Regions from separate parts of the Homo sapiens genome. Here all the other regions are linked to region 3. The links come from fine-mapping of genetic effects on gene expression. A gene starts in region 3. Each other region holds a variant in brackets. All regions are shown on one strand. Distances are between the middles of the regions. Region 1 overlaps CFDP1 (craniofacial development protein 1). Region 2 overlaps CFDP1 (craniofacial development protein 1). Region 3 holds the start of CFDP1 (craniofacial development protein 1).

Region 1 (8,185 bases), 58 kb after region 3:
GGCTTTAAGTGCAGATACCCTATGTAGCTTTTCTTTCTTTTTTTTTTTTCAGATGGAGTTTTGCTGTGTTGCCCAGGCTGGAGTGCAGTGGCACAATCTCAGCTCAGTGCAACCTCCACCTCCTGAGTTCAAGCGATTTTCCTGCCTCAGCTTCCTAAGTAGCTGGGACTACAAATGAGTACCTGCACGCCTGTCTAATTTTTGTATTTTTAGTAGAGACAGGGTTCCACCATGTTGCCCAGGCTGGTCTCAAACTCCTGGGCTCAAGTGATATGCCCATCTCGGCCTCCCAAAGTGCTTAGATTACAGGCATGAGCCACTACGCCCAGCAATCCCTTTACCTTTAAAAAAATAAATAAATAAACCTTTAATTTTAAGAGGTTGTATACTCATGTGTAGTCATATAAACTAGTGCAGAGATTCCTTGTTCCTTTGACCCAGTTTCCCCCTATGGTACCATCTTATAATATTACAACTGGGATATTTACATTGACAGATATAGTCAAGATACAGAACATTTTCATATCTGCTAAGATTCCTCATGTTCTCTATAGCTACATACACTTTCCTCCTGCCCTCACCCCCTCCTTAACCTCTGGTAATCACTAATCTAGAGATTTCCTTTTTGGGAGTTTTTAAATGACAAATTGTTTCCTTAATAGTTACAGGGCTCTTTCATATTGAGTGTCTTGTGGTTTGTCTTTTTTGAGGAATTAGTCTATGTTGCCAAATTTATTTGGGTAGAATTCTGCATAATATTCTCTTATCCTTTTGATACTTGTAGTGATATCCCATTTCATTACCTCCGATATTGGTAATTTGTGCCTTCTCTCTCTCTCTCTTTTTTTTTTGGTCAGTCTTGCTAGACGTTTGTCGATTTTATTGATCTGTTCAAAGAACCAGCTCTGTTTCATTGATCTTTCCCTTTATGTTTTCAATTTCATTTACTTCTATAATTATTTCCTTGCTTCTGCTTGGTTTGCCTATATATTGCTCTTTTTTTTTACTAGATTCTTGAAGTTGGAGCTTAGATTATTGATTTGAGACTTTTCCTCTTTACACTGTATGTATTTCTTACTACACATTTCCCTCACACTGCTTTAGCTATATTCAACAATTTTTGATACATGTATGATTTTATTCCGTTCATTATTTTTTTAATTCCCTTGAGACTTTCTTTTTGACCCATGCATTATTTAGAAGTGTATTGTTCCATTTCCAAGTTTTCAGAGAGTTTTCTGTTGTCTTTCTGTTGTTGCTTTCTAGTTTGATCATGTTGCTGGTGAACACATTCTTTGTGATTTCAACTCTTTTAAATTTGTTGATATTAATTTTATGGGCCAGGATGTGGTCTGTCTTGTATATTCTGTGGACACTTGGAAAGACCAGTATCTTTGTTTTTACCCCAATATCTTTTAAATAAATTCCTTTTTTGTCGGCCAGTCAGTGTCTGTGTCTTGCACTAAACTCTAACTACTACCCCTTTGCAACTGCATTTGTTTAATAGCCTTTATTGTAGCACTAACTATCCCATACTCCCTCATCGTCAGTTTTACACCTTAGTCTCCATCACTACGCTGTGAGCTTGAAGGCGTAGATTTTGTCTTTTTTGTATGTGTCCAGCCTGGTACGTGGCAAATAATTTATAGTATTTGATTAAGGAGTAAATGAATAGCTTTTATTAATGATCACCATTTTTTAAAACTTTGATCTGTGGAAATTTAGTTCTTATCCTTTTAGTTTTGCATATTTTGTCAGTTTTCATCTTAAAAGCAGGGTGGTTTTGGTTTCATAGCTTGTGTTCAGCAAGTAGCTGACCCCAAAAACAGACTGTAAATGTCTGTTATATGATTGGAATGACATTTTATTTCAGCTTAATCATGCCATAGTTCAAGCAGAGACGTGAGATGCTCCTTACTCATTCCACAAGACCTATTTTGCAATTCCTGCTATTTCCTTTATTTCAGGTTGACTTGTCCTCTAGTTGTAGAAGTGTTGTTTCCATAGCAATGCAGCTTACAACGCACATCCCTGTCAGAGTGCACAGAAACCCTGCTGTGTTGCCTGGAAGCCTTGTTTTCCAGTCAGAAAGGAAGCACATGGTATTCCCTCAGCCTTTCCTGCACTTAACTTTGGCTTGCCTTGTGGATAACAAGAAACTCTTGGTTGTTTTCTACCATAGATGCTGGGTTAAAATGTATCTAAGGGATTTTGATGTATAATGTGCCCTGTTACTACAGTGTTCAGGCTGTGGCTGGTGACTGCTAGCGAAGTTGCTGCGTGAAATAGATGTAGGGGACGTTACAGGAATGTGAGCTAAACAGTCTGCCACTCAGCATGAAATTCTATTTATTGCTAAAGCAGTTTGGGGCAACTGCATGTTTGTTGCTTTGGATGATTTTCTTTTGGTTTTTACTGCCTATGAGAACACAATAGAACTGAGTGAACCTCGAGAAGTGGAGAAGCAAACTGTTGGCCTTTCTGAGTGGTTTCCCTGACCTTCAACTAGGAGCATATTTAGTGACTTCATGTTTTTCTTCCTTTGGAACTAAATTGACTAGATTGTACTTGAACACAAGGAGTCTTTTTCATATCTTCTCTCACATTTAGTTTCTTCTTTGCCACCTTTTTCTTTTCTTTATTTCTTTTGTTACTTCAGCTGGAAAGCTTGTTATATGGACATTCATTGGAAATATTCAAGAAAGAGTTGAGTTATAAATAGAGCAGGATTTCAGAGAGACAAGGATATCATCTTAATTGTGATTGGTCAATAAATTGAAGAGATTTGTGTGGACTCACACCAATATAGTGGTAGAAGAATGATGGAGAGCATTTTAATGATAATTATACTCCACACTTCAATATTTTCTCAGTCTTCATGTATTCATCTATTCATCATGTATCAAACAGCATTCATTAAGTACTGCTTTTTGGTTCCCATAGCATTTGACTTTTATGGCAGGAGGTAGGTTCATTATCACAGGGGCCTTAAGTGTTCAATTTAATGAGTTTTCACAATTGAATACATCCATATAACTGATACAGGGCACAGCCAAGCCCCCAGTTGGGGCTTAGCCCTGGAGGGTCTTGGCTTTGCTCAGGAAGTAATTCAAGAGCTAGCTGGTGGTAGAAGAAAACAGCTTTATTGAAGCGGCAGTGTTAACAGCTCCTTGACTGCTCCTGCAGAGCAGGGTTACCGCATAGGCATTGTGCTGAGAGTAGCAGCTCAGGGCAGTTCTGCAGTCATATTTATATCTACTTTTAATTACATGCAGATTAAGGGGCAGTTTATGCAGAAATTTCTAGGAAAAGGGTAATAACTTCTGGATCGTCAGGTCATTGCTCTGGGAAGGGGCGGTAACTCTCAGGTGTTGTCATACCAATGGTAAACTGACATAGCACACTGGTGGGTGTGTCTTACAGAAAGCCGCTTCTGCCCCATACCTGTTTTAGCTAGTCATCAATTTGGTTTGGTATCCAAGCCCTGCCTCTGGAATCCTGTCCTGCCTACTACTTCATAGCCACTATCCAAGATAAGGTATAGTATGATTCCGTCACTCCAGAAAGTTCCCTCATGCCCCTTTCCAGTTGCTTTTGCCCTATGCTCTTTGCCCCAGGCAACTACTGATTTTTATCATGATAGATTAGTTTTGCTTTTCCAGAACGTCATGGAAATCAAAGCATACATTTTTTAAATTTTTGTGCCTGGATTCTTTTACCTACAGTGAAAGAACATGTATTTGAGACTTATCATGTTGCTGTGTATATCAGTGGTTCATTGCTTTTTATAAATTGTTCATATATACCACAGTTTATCCATCTATCCTGCTGATAAACGTATGGGTTATTTCCAAATCTTTTTGAAGACATATGTTTTTATTTATCTTGGGTACCTAAATACCTAGGAATGGAATTGCTAGGTCATGGAGTAGATGTGTGCTTAATGTTTTTGTTTTGGTTTTGATTTGGTTTTTCTGAGACAGGGTCTTGCTCTGTCACTCAGGCTGGAATGCAATGGCATAATCACAGCTCACTGCAGCCTTGAACTCTGTGGCTCAAGAGATCTTCCCACCTCAGCCTCTCGAGTAGCTGGGACTACAGGTGCACACCACTATGTCTGGCTAATTTTTAATTTTTTTGTAGAGATGGGGTCTCCCCATGTTGCAGGCTGGTCTCAAACTCCTAGGCTCAAGCAGTCCTCCTGCTGCAGCCTCCCAAACTGCAAGGATTATAGGCATGAGCCACAACGCTCAGTCTTAATGTTATAAGAAACTGCCAAACAGTTCCTCAAGATGGTTGTACCATTTTATATTTTGCCAGTGATGTATGAGGGTTCTACTTGGTCCATACGTATCCTTGTTCACATGTGATGTTGTCAGTCTTTTTTTTTTTTTTTGAGATGGAGTCTCGCTCTGTCGCCCAGGCTGGAGCACAGTGGCATGATCTCAGCTCACTGCAACCTCCACCTCTGGGGTTTAAACGATTCTCCTGTCTCAGCCTTGGAGTAGCTGGGACTACAGGTGGATGCCACCACACCTGGCTAATTTTTGTATTTTTTGTGGAGATGGGGTTTCATCATATTAGTCAGAGTGGTCTTGAACTCCTGACCTGAGGTGATCCACCCGCCTCGGCCTCCCAAAGTGCTGGGATTACAGGCATGAGCCACCGCGCCCAGCCTTGTCAGTCTTTTTTATTTGGGTAAGTGTGAAATGGTATCTCCTCTGATTTTAGTTTGCATTGCTCTGAAAACTAATAATAATGACATCTTTTCATGTGTAAAGTGACTCTTCCAATCTTACCCATTTTTATTGGGTTGTTTTATTCTGTTATTGGTTTATAGGAGTTCTTC[T/A]TATATTCTGAATATAGATAGTTTGTCAGATGTAAATGCTAAGAATTTTTCTTAGTGTTTGTCTTGCTTATTCATTTTTTTGGTGGTGTGTTTAGATGAGCAGAGTTTTTAATTTTGATATTCAGTTCGTCTTTTACAGTTAGTGCTTTTTGTGTCCTAAGAAATCTGCCTATAAGGTTGAGAAGATTTTGCCTTTTTTTAATGGTCCTGGCTTTTATGTTTAGGTTTTTTTTGTACCTTGAATTAATTTTCATATATGGACACATTTAGGTTTTTTTTTTAGAAACATAGAAGCAATATATGCGTGTTCTTCTAAAAATTCAAGCAACACAGAGATATAGAAGACAAAATGAAAGTTAATAATTTGGTGGGGTTTTTGTAAGGTCTCCACTGTTCAGTAGAGTAGTCACTAGCTATATGTGGCTGTTGAACACTTGAAATGCCACCAGTCTGAATTGAGATGTGCTATAGGTATAAATACACACTAAATTTTGAAGAATTAGTAAGAAAAAATAAGCAGTCAATTTTTATTTCAGTTCCATTGTTGAAACAGTAACATTTCTGACATATTGGGTTAAATGTATTAAAAACAATTTCAGTTGTTTCTTTTTATATTTAATAGGGCTAAAATATGTTTTTAAACTAGGTATGTGGTTCCCATTTTATTTCTGTGTGTTTTTTTTTTAAGAGATGGGGTCTCACTATGTTGCCCAGGCTGGTCTCAAACTCCGGGGATCAACTGATCCTCCCTTCTCAGCCTCCCAAAGTGCTGGGACTACAGGTGTGAGCCACTATGCCCCGCCCATTTTATTTCTATTTGACAGCTCTGTCCTAGACCTTTCCCTAAGCATTTAGTAATCTATGTATATGAATGTGTATCTGTATGAGATACTTTTCTGTTCACATATAAGTGTTTTTTATTTATATAAATGGAGTAATCTAAGCCTATTTTCCTGAAGTTTGTATTTTTTGCTTGAAAATACAAAAATACATATACTAACATATTTCATCTTATTGCCTATACATTTATCTGATTCTTGTTAATGGCTAGTATAGTGTTCTACTTTGAATATTCTATAATTTATTTTATTTTATTTTATTTTGAGACAGTCTCGGGAGTGCAGTGGCGCGATCTCGGTTCATTGCAACCTCCACCTCCAGGGTTCAAGTGATTCTCATGTCTCAGCCTCCCAAGTAGCTGGGACTATAGGCACCCACCACCACGCCTGGCTGATGTTTGTATTTTTAGTAGAGATGGGATTTCGTCATGTTGGCCAGGCTTGTCTTGAACTCCTTACCTCAGGTGATCCACCTGGTTTGGCCTCCCAAAGTGCTGGGATTACAGGTGTGAGCCACCGTGCCTGGCCAGTTCTATAATTTTCAAAACTAACTCCCTATACAGACATTTAGGTTTTTTATCATTTTCTTTCTGAGAAACAGTATGTTTGTAAAGATTGCCTCATGTTTAGAAAGATGATACAATTCCTACCAGAATTTTTTTCTCAAATGGAAATGCTTATTACAATTAGGATTAGTAAATTGTGTAGAGGAAGTCAAGGCTTCCCTTGTAAAGGACAAAATGGCTTCGTATCTAGAGCAGAATACAGTCTTGTAGCCAGGAGTTTCAGACCAGCCAGGGCAACATAGGGAGACCCCGTTCATACCAAAATAAATAAATAAAAATAAAAAGAATACAGTCTTTAGGGAAGCAAACCCTTTGAATACAGTGTGTATCTCTAGCTGAAATTCAAACTGTGCCTCTCTTTTGTTCATGATTAGTTACACAGTGAGTTTAGGTAGAATGGGGGGTGGGCAGGGGTCACAGAGAAAAAGAATCCAGCGTTGTGTATCTTATCTTAGCGACATTTATATTACCCACCATGTGAAAGTTCTTTTGAGAAGCTTCCCTCTCCTCCAGTTATTTTCTTTTTTAGTACAAAACAACCTTTTTAATATTTATAAAACTTGGTATAAGGCCAGTCATTTTGTGGGAAGAAAGTCCAATACGATAATGAATCTATGAGCATTAGCAAGAATGAATGAGATGAGATTATTTAAATATACTTTGGCTAATTTAACATCTGTGTGTGTAAGTGTTGAAATGGGTCACCATGTTATTTCCAAAAACGTGGCTTGGGAATTATGCCTTCTTTTCACTTAGCACATGTAACTGGATAAACCGAGACTTAAGTAGCTTTTAGGGGAAGGAGGGAAAGTAGACAGATGGGAGTAGCTGCTCCAGCATAGGTGTGTCAAGCAAATTGTCACCCTTTTATCTCTGGGCCAGAGTTGTTTCAGTTCCTGCATCAGGAATCAAGTGTATGATCTGCTTCCATGCCGGGGAACTCCTTTAAAACAACAAGATGTTGAATTTTTTTCTTTTACAGTTGATAAAGTTAATTTCCCTTTTCAGTTAGCAGTTTGCCTTTAGAATTTTGGAACTAAAATATTCCTTGCTAAGGCTTTTATTTTCTCCTCCCTCACATGTACTCTGGGTTATTTAGGATTTAAATTAGACATTTAAAGGGTATGTATTTGTGTGTGCGTGCATTTTCTTTTAACTGTGAGTGACAGCAATACCAGGAGAAAAGTTAATACTCCATCTTGCCAAAAGATGATGGTTTTATTTTTCTCTCATGAAACAAAACCTGGGAGGAAGAGTTGAATGAACTTTGCAAACAGTTGAGCAAGTAGATTGGCTTCCAGACTAAACCCTGGATTGAGGTACAGCTAGAATAACTCACTTAGGTTTTCTGTTTATTCTTTCAGGAAGAAGAAATTTGATGCCTAGAGATTGATCTGCTTTTTGTTTTTAAGTTCTAGTTCTGGTTCGATTTCAGAACCAGTCTGCAGGCAACTCTGCATTGTCTCCTTAGAGAACTGGACAATTCCACTGATCTGGATCCTTTGGCAGCAAGCTGACATTTTATTGAGGCTGGTCAGCACTCCTGGCCAGAGTCTTGAAATTGTGGGTGTGTTTTTGCTGCCCATTGTTGAGTTATTCATGAACAGATATGAAAACCATATATATCCGAATTTTGTTACCACTAGATGTGATGAGTTTTTCTTTTTGATTATTTGGGGATTCTTAGTTCTCTGTCAAACTCTTCAGATTAAAACCCTTCTTATAGCTATTACTTTGGACTTCTTATATTTTACAGTATAGGGAAGAGAAAGCTGTCATGGTTATTGCTGGCTCCTTTTTTAGAAATAGGTAGAGTATTATATATGCTTTTGACTTGAACAGGATTGCCTGGTGCAAATAATAGTTTTACTTAATTCTTTTAGCTGTAAAATAGGGATCATAATTCCTACTTCATAGAGCTGTTTTGAGAA
Region 2 (8,185 bases), 86 kb after region 3:
ATACACTTATGATTATGATACACTTATTACACTTATGGTTATGAAATGATGGCAGTCTAATTTTATCATTTCTTCATTTATTTGTTGTAATGCTTCTAAAGATAATAAGTCTCATCTCCTTCTCTGTTTGGTTCCCAATTCATATAGGAAGATAAATTCTTTTTTTTTTAATTGGGTGGTCTTTTTGTTGGTTTTTAATTTGTTTTGTTTTGTTTTTTTGAGACAAAGTCTTACTCTGTTGCCCAGGATGGAGTGCTGTGGCGTGATCTCGACTCACTGCAACCTCCGTCTCCTGGGTTCAAGCGATTCTCCTGCCTCACCTTCCCCAGTAGCTGGGACTACAGGCACGCACCACCATGCCTGGCTTATTTTTGTATTTTTGGTAGAGACAGGGTTTTGCCATGTTCGCCAGGCTGGTCTCAAACTCCTGACCTCAAGTAATCCACCCACCTCAGCCTCCCGGAGTGCTGGGATTACAGGTGTGAGCCACAGCACCCAGCGAATAAATTCTTTCATTTACCTTTTCTTTTTTTTTTTTTTTTTTTTTTTTTTGAGACAGAGTCTCAGTCTGTCGCCCAGGCTGGAGTGCAGTAGCGCAATCTTGGCTTACTGCAACCTCTACCTCCCGGGTTCAAGTGATTCTCTTGCCTCAGCTTCCTGAGTAGCTGGGATTATAGGCGTGTGCCACCACACCTGGCTAATTTTTGTATTTTTAATAGGGACGGGGTTTCACTATGTTGGCCAGGCTGGTCTCGAACTCCTGACCTCAAATGATCCACCTCCCTCAGCCTCCCAAAGTGCTGGAATTACAGGCGTGAGCCACCACACTTGGCTATTTACCTTTTCATATCCTTTTATTTTCCCAATTCATATAGGAAAGATAAGTATTTTCCCTTTCATTTTCAAAATTGATTGGTACACTAACCTCCTCCATAGTAACTAATTTGTATTTTTTTATTATGAACTCATGAATTTAAACATTTGATGTTGTTTCAGTCCATTGCAGTCATTATCCTTATTGATTCTCAAAGTGTTTTATATTTGACAAATAAGTTCTTCAAATTAGTTAGTTATTTTGATAGTGACCTTAATAGTCTTTGCTAGCTTCCATCCCTGTATGGCATAACAAAACATTCCAGGCCCCTTTAGTACATTTCCTGTCCCAGACCTGGTATTAGTCATCTAATCTGGAAGCCCTGCTTTCTTTCTGTGGGAAACATTATTTCAAGACATTAGGGATAAGAATGCCAGTTGCTACTGAGTTGGTTATTGTTTCAAGGATTTATCAATACATAGAGTAAATAATTATGTTTTGCTTTGTCTTATTTTTATTTCTTTACTTTAGAAACAGTACAGCTACTTACAAATCAAGTTTAGAACTCTCAGGTTATCTTAAATCTGAAGCTTCTACCTTCCTAAGAACAAAACACCGGAATGATGAGATGTCATATAAATATCCATTTATTTTATTTCACAATACATACATTGACCTATTGTATGTATGATTAGTACAAATGGTTTAAATTGGCTTGTTGTGCTTTGTTTTGTTTTTGCAGTTTTTTTTTGTCATTAGATTTTATCTCACTAGAAATGTATAGTCAAATTTCTGTGTTCTAAAGTCACTTGAAGTAGTTTTTCTGTTTGTAGTAATGTTACCAGTTGGACACATTAGGTTCATTTATTTTTGGGAATTGCTTTTGTTCCCATTTAAATTTTTATTTATCTTGCGTATCTTGGATTAACGGTAATAGACCATATACAATTTTCTCTACTTTTTTTCATTTGAGAGTTTCCTCATTTATTTTGTTTTCGGATGCAAAGTATTTCATTGTATGAATTACCAGTTTGTTCAATTAGTTTTCTTTGATAACATTTGGGTTGCTTCTAGTCTTTTGTTATTACAGAGTCTTGCAATGAATAGTCTTATGCTTATATGTTTTTGTGGTTTCTGGCAAGGATTTCAACGTAATTTAAGGCTATCCTCTACTTAAGTTATGGCCAATTAAGTGTCTGATTAAATGTCTGTAATAATTTAAAAATAACAATACTTAATTTAAAAGAGCTTATAATACATAATTATTCATTAGAGAGATGCAAATCAAACCACAGTGAGATAATACTTCACACCCACTAGGATGGTTATAATTTAAAAAGATGGAAATAGCAAGTGTTGGCAAGGGTATGGAGAAGTTGAAACCTTCATACCTTGCTGGTTGGATATAGAATGGTGTAGCCACATAGGAAAAGAGTTTGGCAGATTCTCAAAGTTAAACATAGAGCTGTATACAACCTAACAATTCTGTGCATATACCCACAAAAAATGAAAACATATATCCACACAAAAACTTGCACACATATGTTCATAGCAGCATTATTCATCCAAAAAGTAGAGGTACTCAAATGACTTTCAACTGATAAACACAGATGAACAAAATGTATGTCCAAACAGTAGAATATTATTCAGCTATAAAAAAGAACAGAGTACACTTAGCAAACTAAGAATAGAAGGAACTTCCTCAATCTGATAAAGGACATCCATGAAAAACCCACCACTAATGTCATACTTAATCATGAAAAACCGAATGCTTTTCTCCTAAGATAGGAAAAAGACAAGTATGTCTACTCATGCCATCTCTATTCTACTTTGTATTGGTGCTTCTAGCCAGGGCAGTTAGACAAGAAAATGAAACAAGAGGCATCCAAATTGGAGAGAAAGGAGTTGAACTATTCCCAGATGGTATGCTCTAATATGGAGAAAATCCTAAGCAATCCACTAAAAATTGATTAGAACTAATGAACAAGTTCAGCAAGGTTACAAGATACAAGATCAATATGTAAAAATCAACCGTATATATGTATGTATATATATTTTTTTTTTTTTTTTTTTTTTTTTTTTTTTTTTTTTTTTTGAGACGGAGTCTCGCTCTGTCGCCCAGGCTGGGGTACAGCAGCACAAACACAGCTCACTGCATTCTCAACCTGGGGTCAAGCAGTCTTTCTGCCTTAGCCTCCCAAAGTGCTAGGAACTATATTTCTTTTTTTTCTTTTTTTGAGACAGAGTCTCGCTCTGTCACCCAGGCTAGAGTGCAGTGGCATGATCCTGGCTCACCGCAACCTCCACTCCCGGGTTCAAGTGATTCTCCTGCCTCAGCCTCCTGAGTAACTGGGATTACAGTCGCCCGCCACCACGCCCGGCTAATTTTTCTATTTTTAGTGGAGATGGGAGTTCACCATTTTGGCCTGGCTGGTCCTGAACTGCCCTCAAGTAATCCACCTGCCTTGGCCTCCCACAGTGCCTTGAGATTACAGGTGTGACCCACCGCACCCAGCCTAAGAACTGTATTTCTATAAACTAGCAGTGAACCATCCAAAAATGAAATTAAGGAGACAGCCCTGGTGCAGTGGCTCATGGATGTAATCCTAGCACTTTGGGAGGCTTTAAGAGGCTGAATTGCTTGAGGCCAGGAATTTAAAACCAGCCTGATCAACAGAGACTCCATCTCTACCAGAAAACGAACAAAAAAAGTTATCCAGGTGTGGTGGCATGCCCCTGTAGTCCCAGCTACTCAGGGTGCTGAGGCAGGAGGATCGCTCCAGCCCAGGAGTTTGAGGCTGCAGTGAGCTGTGATCGTACCACTATACTCCAGCCTGGGTGGCAGACAGCAAGACCCTGTCTCTGAAAACAAAAATTAAATGGAGACAGTTCCATTTACAAAAGCATCAAAAAGAATAGGAATAACTTTGACAATAGATGTGCACAATTGTATGCTGAAATCTACAAAATACTGTTCAAAGAAATTAATGAGTTCTGAGTAAAGACATTTAATGTTCATGGATTGAAAGATAATATGGCAACACAGACATGATTCACTTAAGAGCTGTATCTTATGATGTGCAAATTATATCAATACAAAAAAAAGCTTGCAGTAAATAATTACTGCAGTAAAATTTGAATTTTAAAAATATAAAGTGAGCCAAAAAAGAAAAAAACAACTTATGGTCTACTGCAGGTTTTTAATATTAAATGAGCATTTCTTTCCCATTCAAGATGAGCCACAAAAGCAGAGCCCAAGAAATTTTAGGCTTTGGGCTTAAAGTTGATTTTTTTGTTTATTGTTTTTAAATTTTATTTTGAAATAACTTTAGATTTACAGAAGTGTTGTAAAGATAGTACAGAGTTCCCATAAGCGCTTCACCCAGCTTCTTCTAATGCTGACATCTTATATAATCTTAGTACATTTATCAAAACTAAGAAATTAACAT[T/C]GGGAGCCAAGCATGGTTCACACCTGCAGTCCCAACTATTTTGGAGACTGAGGAGGGAAGACTGCTTGAGGCCAGAAGTTTGAAGTTGCAGTGTGCTGTGATCACTCCTGTGAATCACCACTGTACTCCAGCCTGGGCAACATAGTAAGTGAGACCTTGTCTCTAAAAAAGAAAGAAATTAACATTGGTACAGCGCCATTAACTAAACGATAGACTTCAGATTTTGACAGTTTTCCCACTAATAACCGTTTGTGTTCCAGGACCCAAACCCATTTTCCACATTTAGTTAGTTGTCATGTCTCCTTAGTCTTCTCCCGCCCCATGACAGTTTCTCAGCCTATATTTATTTTTCATGACATTGCCTTTGGAAAGTGCTGGCCAGGTATTTTGTAGAGTGTGTCTTCATTTGGGTTTGCTTCGTGATTTCGCATGATGAGAATGAGGTTATGGATGTTGGAGAGACCACCAGAGAGGGGATTTGTCCTTTTCTCATATATCAGTGTATTACTCATATTAACTTTAATCATTTGGTCAAGATGGAGTTTGTCAGATGTCTCCACTGTAAAGTTTTCCCTTTAAATTTATGGTTTTGTATTGCTTTGTTCTTCCTTTTTTTTTGAGACGGAGTCTCGCTCTTTCACCCAGGCTGGAGTGCAGTGGCGCGATCTCAGCTCACTGCAACCTCCGCCTCCCGGGTTCACACCATTCTCCTGCCTCAGCCTCCCGAGTAGCTGGGACTACAGGTGCCTGACACTGCACTCAGCTAATTTTTTGTATTTTTAGTAGAGACAGGGTTTCACCGTGTTAACCAGGATGGTCTCGATGTCTTGACCTCGTGATCCACCCACCTGGGCCTCCTAAAGTGCTGGGATTACAGGCGTGAGCCACTGCGCCTGCTTTTTTTTTCTTTTTTCTTTTTCTTTTTCTTTTTCTTTTTTTTTTTTTTTTTTTTTGAGATGGAGTCTCACTGTGTCGCCAGGGCTGGAGTGCAATGGTCCGATCTCGGCTCACTGTAACCTCCGCCTCCTGGGTTCAAGCGATTCTCCTGCCTCAGCCTCCTGAGTACCTGGGATTACAAGCGCCCGCCATTATGCCCAGCTGACTTTTTGTACTTTTAGTGGGGACAGGGTTTCACCATGTTGACCAGGCTGTTGTCGAACTCTGACCCCGTGATTCACCCACCTCAGCCTCCCAAAGTGCTGGGATTACAGGTGTGAGCCCCCCGTGCCTGGCCTGTTCTTTCTTCTATTTTGAAGGTCACTTGGGATGCATTTTCATGCTATTAATAAAGAAATGCTGACCCTTGTTACTGAACTCCTGCTCCCGGGACGCATTGTGACACCAACTACTTGCTGTCATATGGAAGGACAGACAAGACCATCTGTGTTTTCCCAAGCTAAGCAGAATTTTTTTTCAGGAGTGGGGTGGGCAAGTCCTGTTGACTAACTAGATTTTCGAGTTTTGATTAGGCAGCAAAATACCACCTCAGAGAAGAGGAATGGGGCAAAATTATTTCCAGAGTTTGGATGGCATATCAATCTTTTGTAGTAGGTGCTGACTTTTTTTTTTTTTTTTTGAGTGGAAGATTTTAGAGCTATCTTGGAAAATCAAAGTATATCCAATATCGATTATATAAAACTTAGTTTATTGTTGCTTCCTTCATCCTGTCCACCTGGTACTCTTTTTTTTTTTTTTTTTTTTTTTTTTTTTTTTTGAGACAGAGTCTTGCTCTGTCACCCAGGCTGGAGTGCAGTGGCATGATCACGGCTCACTGCAAGCTCCGTCTCCCAGGTTCACGCCATTCTCCTGCCTTAGCCTCCCGAGTAGCTGGGACTACAAGCACCCACCACCACGCCCGGCTAATTTTTTGTATTTTTAGTAGAGATGGGATTTCACCGTGTTAGCCAGGATGGTCTCGATCTCCTGACCTCGTGATCCACCTGCCTCGGCCTGCCAAAGTGCTGGAATTACAGGCGTGAGCCACCATGCCCAGCCCTACCTGGTGCTCTTTACACTGGAGAGTTTACCCCTAGAGAACTTCAGCACATTGACATTCCTGGTCCTTGGGCTACTTCATTTACATTTACCTACAGCTTTGATGTCAGAATCCAGGACACAATCTCACCACCTTTCTGTTACTTTCACTTCACATGTGCTAGTAAACACTGAGGATTCAGCAGAATTTAAGCACAGTGAAGTGCTCATGGGAGATGCATTGGGAGTACTGAACATTGACATTTGAGCCATTGTTCCGTGTTGCTCACACTACCATCCAATTCTTTTTCACTTCACATGCATTCAGATTTCTTCTTGAGTAGAGACCTGGAAGCCTCAGACCTCATATCTAGAAGACCTTGATTATGTTCTCTGGTGCAGCCTCAGCTTAGTCACCGATGACATGACCAGGTCTTACAGCAAATGAGCACCAACTTAGGACCCACTGTCATGTGCCTTGAACATTTTTCAAAGTTTTCAGCATTTTTCAAGATTTTAAAGTTTACTTAATTATTTTCCTCATGGTGGTCTAACTGATCACAGTAAGAAAACAAATGATCTTTTGTTTAACAACTCATGGCATGAAAAAAACATATGATCTTGATCTCTTATTACCAAACTCTCTTGCAGACTTTGGGATGTTCTTTTCTTTCTTTTTTAAGAGACAGGGTCTTTGTCATCTAGGGAGGAGAACAGTGACATGATTATAGTTCACTGCATCCTTGAACTCCTGGGCTTAAACAGTCCTCCTTCCTCTTGCTCAGCCTCTTAAGTAGCTGGGACTACAGATGCATAGCCACCATGCCCAGATAATGTTTTGTTTTTTTTTGTTTTGTTTTGTTTTTGAGACAGAGTCTCACTCTGTCACCCAGGCTGAGGTAAAGTGGTACGGTCTAGGTTCACTGCAACTTGCACTTCCCACATTCAAGCGATTCTCATGTCTTAGCCTCCTGAGTGGCTGGGACTACAGGCATGTACCACCATGCCCAGCTAATTTTTGTATTTTTAGTAGAGACAGGGTTTTGCTATGGTGGCCAGGCTGGTCTCAAACTCCTGACCTTAAGTGATCCACCTGCCTCGGCCTCCCAAAGTGCTGGGATTATAGGTGTGAGCCACTGCTCCCAGCCTGTTTTATTTTTGTAGTGATGGGGTCTTGCTTTGTTGCCCAGGCTGGTCTCAAACTCTTGGGCTTAAGTGAACCTCCTGCCTCAGTCTCCCAAAGTGCTGGGATTGCCCAGGCTGGTCTTGATCTCTTGGGCTTAAGTGATCTTCCCACTTCAGTCTCTCAAGGTGCTGTGATTACAGACACGAGCCACTTTACCCAGCCTGAAAATGTTCTTTCTTTTTTTCTTTCTTCTTTTTTTGTTTTTGAGATGTAGTCTCCCTCTGTTGCCCAGGCTGGAGTGCAGTGGCACGATCTCAGCTCACTGCAACCTCTGCTTCCTGGGTTCAAGTGATTCTCCTGCCTTACCCTCCCAAGTAGCTGGGACTACAGGCACGCACCACCATGCCCAGCTAATTTTTGTATTTTTAGTAGAGACAAGGTTTCACCATATTGGCCAGGCTGGTATCAAACTCCTGACCTTGTGATCCACCCATCTGGGCCTCCTAAAGTGCTGGGATTACAGGTGTGAGCCACTGTGCCCAGCCAGGATGTTCTTTCTAAATGATGTTACTTCTGGGCTCTTTGTAAGGGTTATTAGTCCCTTTCTGAAGATTTGTTTTGAGTAGCTTTTCATTCAGTTTTTCTTCTTGTTTTGGTTTTTCTTAGGTGAATACACGCCTACTATAAAATATCTGAACATAAGCTATAACGTGGTTGTTCAGTCACGAATTGTACCATTATTTTATAGTTACTTTTCTAATGGCATAAGTCCCATGATTTTGTTTTCTAAAGCAATTAAAGTGATTTGACACCTGATTTCCT
Region 3 (8,185 bases):
ACTCTGTCACCCAGGCTAGAGTGCAATGGCAAGATCTCGGCTCACTGCAACCTCTGCCTCCTGGGTTCAAGCAATTCTCCCACCTCAGCCTCCTGAGTACCTGGGATTACAGGCACATGCTATCATGCCCAGCTAATTTTTGTATTTTTGTAGAGATGGGGTTTCACTATGTTAGCCAGGCTGGTCTTGAACTCCTGACCTCAGGTAGTCCACCTCCCTCAGCCTCCTAAAGTGCTGGGATTACAGGCGTGAGCCACTACGCCTGGCCTGAGTTGTGCACTTAAATGGGTACATTTTATGGTGTGTGAATTGTGTCTCAATAAGGCTTTTTTTTTTTTTTTTTTTTGAGACGGAGTCTCCCTCTGCCACCCAGGCCGGAGTGCAGTGGCGCGATCTCGGCTCACTGCAAGCTCCGCCTCCCAGGTTCATGCCATTCTCCGGCCTCAGCCTCCCGAGTAGCTGGGACTACAGGCGCCTGCCACCACGCCCGGCTAATTTTTTATATTTTTTAGTACAGACGGGGTTTCACCGTGTTAGCCAGGATGGTCTCGATCTCCTGACCTTGTGATCCGCCTGCCTCAGCCTCCCAATCAATAAGGCTATTTTTAAAAGTTTGCTGGTATAGAGCCATTGCAATGTCTTATTAATCACATGCATGTCTCATCTATTCCTTGATTCACAAAAGATTTATTTCTTGATTTCCTGGATTTACAGACCCAGTCTAGTCCAGAGTGTCAATGAGGAGCAATTTCAGCTGACAAAAACTCATATTTGTATACAAGATAAACAAATAGTTGCCGGGCACGGTGGCTCACGCCTGTAATCCCAACATTTTGGGAGGTCGAGGCAGGCGGATTGCCTGAGGTCAAGAGTTTGAGACCAGTCTAGCTAACATGGTGAAACCCCGTCTCTACTAAAAATACAAAAAAAAAAAATAGCCGGGCGTGGTGGCGTGCGCCTGTAATCCCAGCTACTTGGGAGGCTGAGGCAGGGGAATTGCTTGAACCAGGGAGGTGGGGGTTGCATTGAGCCGAGATCGCGCCACTGCACTCCAGCCTGGGCGACAGAGAGAGACTCCATCTCAAAAACAAACAAAACCAAATAGTGTGGTAGTCATTGGTGTCTCTTCTGAATTTGCTTCTGATTGTTACCTCATAAATAGATCATTAAAATGTTTTAATCTGAAGAAATGGTAAAGATTATATATGGTTGTACTTCCATATGGTTTAACTTGAAGGGTTCCTGTGGATGATGGCTGCATTCCTGAATAGTCAATTCTTTGTATTCACAGTAGTTATGGCTATAAAGTTGTCGAGAACATTGAATTAGCAAAAACCGAACCATGGGTCCTGGGAGAAATACAGGGTTAGGTTCCTGTGAACCTCTGGTCAACACTTTTGTCAACTGATCGGTATGTAACTTTGTTTTATGTGTGTTTCTGTTCAAAGACACCTTATTTAATATGTATTTCTTAAAAATAATCTGCAGTATTTACAATAAAATTTCAATGACAGTAGTTTGGTGTAATGTACTCTAGTGTACTGAGATTGCACTACTTTTTTTTTTTGAGTCAGTCTTGCCCTTTTGTCTAGGCTGGAGTGCAATGGCATGGTCTTGGCTCACTGCCACCTCCGACCCCCAGGTTCAAACGATTTTCCTGTTTCAGCCTCCTGAGTAGCTGGGATTACAGGCGCCCACCACCACACCCAGCTAATTTTTCTATTTTTAGTAGAGACAGGGTTTCACCATGTTGGCCAGGATGGTCTTGAACTCCTGACCTTGTGATCCGCCCACCTCAGCCTCCCAAAGTGCTGGGATTACAAGTGTGAGCCACCGCGTCCAGCCTGTACAACCTTTTCATTGGCACACACAGAGTACACACATATAGTTCCCATATACAGTCAACAGTATAACATACTGTACAGTTCCCACAGTAAACACATACACTACTTTGCACACATACTGTATACCCTACAGTACAGCAATACAAATAAAGGGAAAAAGTTCAAAGATGGAGCATCCTAAGTTTTATAAAAATATCAACTAAAATCTTACGGTTGATGGAGCTGCACAATGTGGTTAAACCTCTCGACCTTGGCTTGCCCCACAGAAACCAGGGGAGGGGTGAGTGAAATTTATTCTGCAGAAGAGGAAGAGGGTGGCAGGTCAACCTCTGGCATTTCTACCTTAGGAGTCTGGCTCTTGACACTTGTTGAAGGAGTGGGCAATCTTCCCTCCCAAACTGGCTTGAGAAATTGCATTAGCCTTGCCTGCCTGGCTTTTCTGCCTGAAATCTTTAAGCATCTCGGTATAAGGGGCAAACGCAGTGGAGGCCAGCCATTTAAATTTGAGGCTTCGATCAAGCGTAGGGTCACACTCTTCCATGTCGCTAAAAATTTTTTCCAAGGCAGAACTCCATTCTGATATTTTGGCGCTGTGAGAGGGACAATTCTGGAAGTCTTGGGCCGACTTTCATGGCCATCAACTCCAATGCCTTCTTTTGCCATCTCATCCAGGTCTTCGTTGGTTGGTTCCACTGCCTTCTCTGCCAAAATGTACTCCACATCTCCTTCCTTCACGTCATCAAAGCCCTCTCCACTTACCTGCTGTGCCATATGCATTATGTCTCTGACAGTGTTCTTTATATTTTCTGTAACACCTTCAAACCCTTCAAAATTCTCCACGCAGTCTGGCCAAACATTTTCCCAACAGTTATTGGTAGTAGCCTGACCAATGCTCTCCCAGGCTGTACTGACATAATCAATAACGTTGCATGTAGTGACCGACTTCCAATAGTCCAGCATGGTGGTTTCCTTGTTGGTCCTGAGAGCCTCACAGGCCTTCATATAAAGCTCCCTTGTGTAGTGTGCCTTGAATGCTTTTATTATGCCCCGATTGAGGGGTTGGATGAGAGACTTAGTGTTTGGGGGCATAAAAAGAACTCCTATGTTGGCGTGTGCATTTTCGAGTTCTTTGCAGCAATGGATTGTAGCATTATCCAAAATTAACAAAACCTTGAAGGTGCCCGGCGCGGTGGCTCACGCCTGTAATCCCAACACTTTGGGAGGCCGAGGCAGGCGGATCATGAGGTCAGGAGATCAAGACCATCCTGGCTAACACGGTGAAACCCCGTCTCTACTGAAAATACAAAAAATTATCCAGGCGTGGTAGTGGACGCCTGTAGTCCCAGCTACTCGGGAGGCTGAGGCAGGAGAATGACGTGAACCCGGGAGGCGGAGCTTGCAGTGAGCCGAGATTGCGCCACTGCACTCCAGCCTGGGCGACAGAGCGAGACTCCGTTTCAAAACCAAACCAAAACAAAACAAACCCAAACAAACAAAAAACAAAACAAAACAAAACAAAAAACCCTTGAAGGCAAGGTTTCTGCCCTGGAGACAGTGTTCAGCTTCTGGGATGAAGCAGTTGTGGAACCAATCAGACATCATCCACACTTTTTTGTTCCACCTCCAATAGACTGGCAGATGGTTCACGTATTTCCCGTTAAGTGCTTGTGGATTTTGGGTTCTTTACACCATTAGGAGTTTGCACTTTAGTCGCTCTTGGCATTGGCGCACAATAACAAGGGTGCATGATCCTGGCATGATTTAAAGCCAGGGGCTTTGGAGGCCGTTTGCATTATATAGGTTCGTTTGCCAACATCCTTGTAAAATAAGCCAGTCTCATCCGCATTGAAAACCTGCTCTTTCACATAACCCTTTTCCTGTATAACACTTAGCAAGTATTTTTAAAATTCTTCCGCAGCCTCCTGATCTGCAGAGCTCGCCTCACCTGCAAGTTTAACATTTTTCACCCCGTATCGCCTTTTGAAACGCGCGAGCCGGCCAGCACTCGCCGAGAAGGGCTTAGCATTTCTTTGACTCTGGGTAACGTGACCACAGATATCTTTGGCTTTCAGCCTCACCACAATGCTGTCCACTATGTTTTTTTTAATCGATTGACATCTCATGAATCCACAAATTTAGCCGCTTTTCCATCTTTTCCATCTTTGTCATAGCTTCATCACGCACGATGGAGGTCACTTCAGCACTATCCGGAGCGGCCTCACGGACAGATCGGTGAATTTCCTTTTCCTTTTTCTTGATGTACCGGATTGTCGACTCGTTAACATTGAGCTCATGGCCAACAGCACTGTAACTCATGCCTGATTGGAGCTTATCCAACACGCGGACTTTCTCCGTAAGGCACATCACGGTCTTCTTTCGCTTAGGAACACTGGGCAGAGCTTAAGCACTACGCTTGGGGGCCATTTTAGAAAGCAAAACCACCCACAAAAAGCAGAAAAAAAAGTGTCAGTAAACAGACTGCGGAAAGGACTCTTTGTTTACAGCACAGGAGCTGCGACTAGAAGGCGGCGCTTCTCCCAGTTCAAACTTCAGCTGGGAACCTTACCTCCGCCAACTCCAAATTTTCACCCTCTGCGCATGCCCGGGAAGAACCCCAGACAGTACCGTGATGATTGATTTTAGGGTTACAAATACATTTTAGCAAGTAAGTGAATTTGGCATTACGAATTAATGATTAATGAAGGTCACCTGTATTTCCATAGATATGTAATTTTATTTAAGCAGGTTTATTATATTAAGGCGGCGAGGCAGCGCCGAAGACTACAAGTTCCAGCATGCACCGCGTCCGGGCGGGTTCGGGCTCCCAGCGAGGGCTTCAGGGACGCCAGCCCGGAGGCATCGGCCGGAAGTGTCGTAGGGCAACCACGTAGTACTCTCTGCGCATGTGCAAAGCGCTGTCGGGGGCCGCCCTAGCTGCCGTCGCCGCCGCCGGGGCTCTATGGTCTCTCCCTAGAGCTTTGCCGTTGGAGGCGGCTGCTGCGGTCTTGTGAGTTTGACCAGCGTCGAGCGGCAGCAACATGGAGGAATTCGACTCCGAAGACTTCTCTACGTCGGAGGAGGACGAGGACTACGTGCCGTCGGGTGAGCGATTCCGCCTGAGGCGAGAAGCGAATTGCCCCGCCCCACGCCTCACGTGAGGCGCGCTCTGCCCCCGCGGGCGTCTGCCCTGTGGCCCAGGTGGTCCAGGGGGGCTCCTGTTCTCGAGCGTCCGCTCCCTCAGGCCCCTCATCCTCGGCCGCTCCGGCCCGAGGCGTGTGCGCGTGGCGGTTCTGTGCTCCCCTCCCGTTGGGCAGCTCCGGCCGCCGCCCCCTCTTGCAGCGCGGGAACCGGCACATGGACACGGCCCCTTGTCGCTAGGGACGCTCGTCGGTCAGCCCCGAACGACACCGCTGCTTCAGAAGTCGGGGCGGCAGTCCGAGCCTTGGAGGTTTTTTTCAGCCCTGGCCCGAGAGAGCTGCTGGCCACCACCCCGTCCAAGATAGAGCTGTCCGCTCTCCGCCTGGTTGTTAGAAAGTTCTGATAGAAAGTTCCCCCTTTGATGCTTTTTGCCTCATTGTGACGTCCACCCATCCTCTCCTCTCAGAACTTTCTTTCCTTAGGGATCTCAACCCGAACGGGGTGAGAATGAATCTTACTGAAGAAATCTTTCTGTTCCCCCTTCTTGGTCTTCCCCAGACAAACCGTCTCGTTGAAAGTATCTTCACCCATTCACATCTTCAGTTGAAAGACTAGACAAACAAGAAACAAACAGACTAACAAAACACAACCCAGGAGTCGTCCCTATTCTCTTTGTTTTACTTTGTTCTGTTCTGTTTTATTTAAAGACAGGGTCTTGCTGTTGTCTAGGCTGGAGTGCAGTGATGCGATCTTGGCTCACTGCAACCTCAGACTCCTGGGCTCAAGCGATCCTCCCGTCTCAGCCTCTGGAGTAGCTGGGACTGCAGGTGCAGGCTGCCACGCCCGCTAATTTTTTAAATTTTTTTTTTTTTTTTTTTTTTTAGAAATGGCATCTTGCTATGTTGCCCAGGCTGGTCTCGAACTCGTGGGCTCAAGTGATCCTCCCACCTCAGCCACCCAAAGTGCTGGGATTACAGGCATGAGCCACCGCGCCCCGGCTAGTGAAGTATTTCTAAAAGGCACGTTGAAAACTAGCCATTCCATTCCTGGCGCGGTGGCTCATGCTTGTAATCCCAACACTTTGGGAGGCTGAGGTGGGTGGATCACAAGGTCTGGAGATCGAGACCATCCTGGACAACATGGTAAAACCCCGTCTGTACTAAAAACACAAAAATTAGCTGGGCATGGTGGCACGCGCCTGTAGTCCCAGCTCCTCAGGAGGCTGGAGCAGGAGAATCGCTTGAACTCGGGAGGTGGAGGTTGCAGTGAGCCGAGATCACACCACTGCACTCCAGCCTGGGTGACAGAGCGAGACTCCGTCTCAAAAAAAAAAAAAAAAAAGTTAGCCAGTCCCATCACCCTCATCCCTATTTTATTTAATATTCCTCAGGAGAAACTTCTTTCCACCTTTTGAATTTGGTATTATATTTCTGTTGTCTATTGATTTAACCCATGTATAGTAGGTATCATTTTTAGTAGCCCCTGACCTCCTTCCCCTCATCCCAAACACACACACAAACACTTCCACCTTCGGGGCCTCCCCAACTCCGTAGTCTGCCGTTGAACCTGTGTCCAGTTTTAGTTAGATCAGTATTCAGTGTTTTTTTTTCTTTCGAGACAGTGTCTCGCTCTGTGGCTCAGGCTGGAGTGCAGTGGCACAGTCTCTGCTTAATGCGGCCTCTGCCTTCCCGGTTCAAGCAGTTCTGCCTCAGCCTCCTAAGTAGGTGGGATTACAGGCGCCCGCCAGCACACCCGATCGATTTTCTTTTCTTTTCTTTTTTTTTTTTTTTTTTTTTTTGAGACAAGAGTTTTGCTCTGTCTCCCAGGCTGGAGTGCAGTAGCGGGATCTCGTCTCACTGCAAGCTCTGCCTCCCGGGTTCACGCCATTCTCTTGCCTCAGCCTCCTGAGTAGCTGGGACTACAGGTCCCCGCCAGCACACCCGAATGATTTTTTTGTATTTTTAGTAGAGACGAAGTTACACCATGTTGGCCAGGCTTGTTTCAAACTCCTGACCTCAAATGGTCTGCCCGCCTCGGCCTCCCTGAGTGCTGGGATTACAGGCGTGAGCCACCGTGCCAGGCCCAGTGTTTTTTTTTTCTAATGACAGTGTGAATAAACATCATGTTGACAGCTGAACCGTATGTTATACAGATTACTTTTCCTGCACTTCTTGTTTTCTCTGGTGCTAATAATTGCCATTTTTTGTTGCTACTTAGCTGTCTATGTACTTAACTGCTGTAAACCAAAAATAAAATTCTAAGGCGCCCCCAACCATCTGAATGGACTTCCTCCTTAGCCAGGGCTCTTTAACATTTAACCTGAGAGACTGTTTTGGGCCATGATGGGAAGTGGGGGCTGAACCTGCCTCATTGTATGTCTCTGACATTAACATCGATGCAGACTTTAAGTCTGATAATAAACATTTTGCAACCTATTCTCTCTGAAGCCTGTCTGCTAAAAGCTTCATCTGTATGATAAAACTGTGTTCTCAGCCGAGCAGTGGCTCGAGCCTATAATCCTATCACTTAGGGAGGCAGAGGCTGGTGGATCATTTGAGGTCAGGAGTTCAAGACCAGCCTGGCCAACGTGGTGTAACCCCATCTCTACTGAAAATATGAAAATTAGCCAAGTGTGGTGACGGGCGCCTGTAATCCTATCTACTGGGGAGGCTGAGGCACGAGATCTCTTGAACCCAAGAGGTGGGGGTTGCAGTGAGTGAAGATCATGCTTCTGCACTCCAGCCTGGGTAACAGAGCAAGACTCCATTTAAAAAAAAAAAGTGGCCAGGTGCGGTGGCTCACACCTTTAATCCCAGCACTTTGGGAGGCTGTGGTGGGCGGATTGCCTGAGGTCAGGAGTTGGAGACCAGTCTGGCCAACATAGTGAAACCCTGTCTGTACTAAAGATATAAAAAAATAGCTGGGTGTGGTGGCGTGTGCCTGTAATCCCAGCTACTCCGGAGGCTGGGGCAGGGGAATTGCTTGAACCAGGGGCGTGGGGTTGCAGTGAGCTGAGGTTGCGCCACTGCACTCCAGCCTGGGCAACAGAGTGAGACTCCATCTCGAAAAAACAAACAAACAAACAAAAAAAACCTCTGGTCTCCACAACCTCTATCTTAACCCAGACATTCCTTTCTGTTTAGGCAAACTCAACCTGTTGCCAACAAGAAAATTTTTAAATTTACCTGTAGCCTGGAAGCACT

Evidence for each region. PIP is the estimated chance that this variant, and not a neighbour inherited with it, causes the effect.
Region 1: its variant is fine-mapped to the expression of CFDP1 in whole blood (INTERVAL, PIP 0.99).
Region 2: its variant is fine-mapped to the expression of CFDP1 in blood mononuclear cells (TOPMed, PIP above 0.99). The same link has a PIP of 0.9 or more in monocytes and monocytes after LPS.

What each region holds. Positions count from the first base shown.
Region 1 is chr16:75,372,002-75,380,186 of GRCh38, reverse strand. The region is part of intron 5 of CFDP1 (craniofacial development protein 1); the gene reads left to right. Among named protein-coding and RNA genes, the nearest start is that of CFDP1, 57 kb to the left of the region's middle. RefSeq lists an enhancer at 3,083-3,580. The variant T/A (reference allele first, on the strand shown) is at 4,850.
Region 2 is chr16:75,344,375-75,352,559 of GRCh38, reverse strand. The region is part of intron 5 of CFDP1 (craniofacial development protein 1); the gene reads left to right. Among named protein-coding and RNA genes, the nearest start is that of CFDP1, 85 kb to the left of the region's middle. The variant T/C (reference allele first, on the strand shown) is at 4,264.
Region 3 is chr16:75,430,050-75,438,234 of GRCh38, reverse strand. CFDP1 (craniofacial development protein 1) reads left to right here and starts at 4,732. Exons shown (of 7, transcript NM_006324.3): 1 at 4,732-4,946. The coding sequence starts at 4,883. It overlaps LOC124903723 (tigger transposable element-derived protein 1-like), which reads right to left and starts at 3,031. Exons shown (of 1, transcript XM_047435019.1): 1 at 2,015-3,031. The coding sequence starts at 2,933. The coding sequence ends at 2,136. RefSeq lists enhancers at 4,126-4,693, 4,237-4,746 and silencers at 5,057-5,296, 6,553-6,752.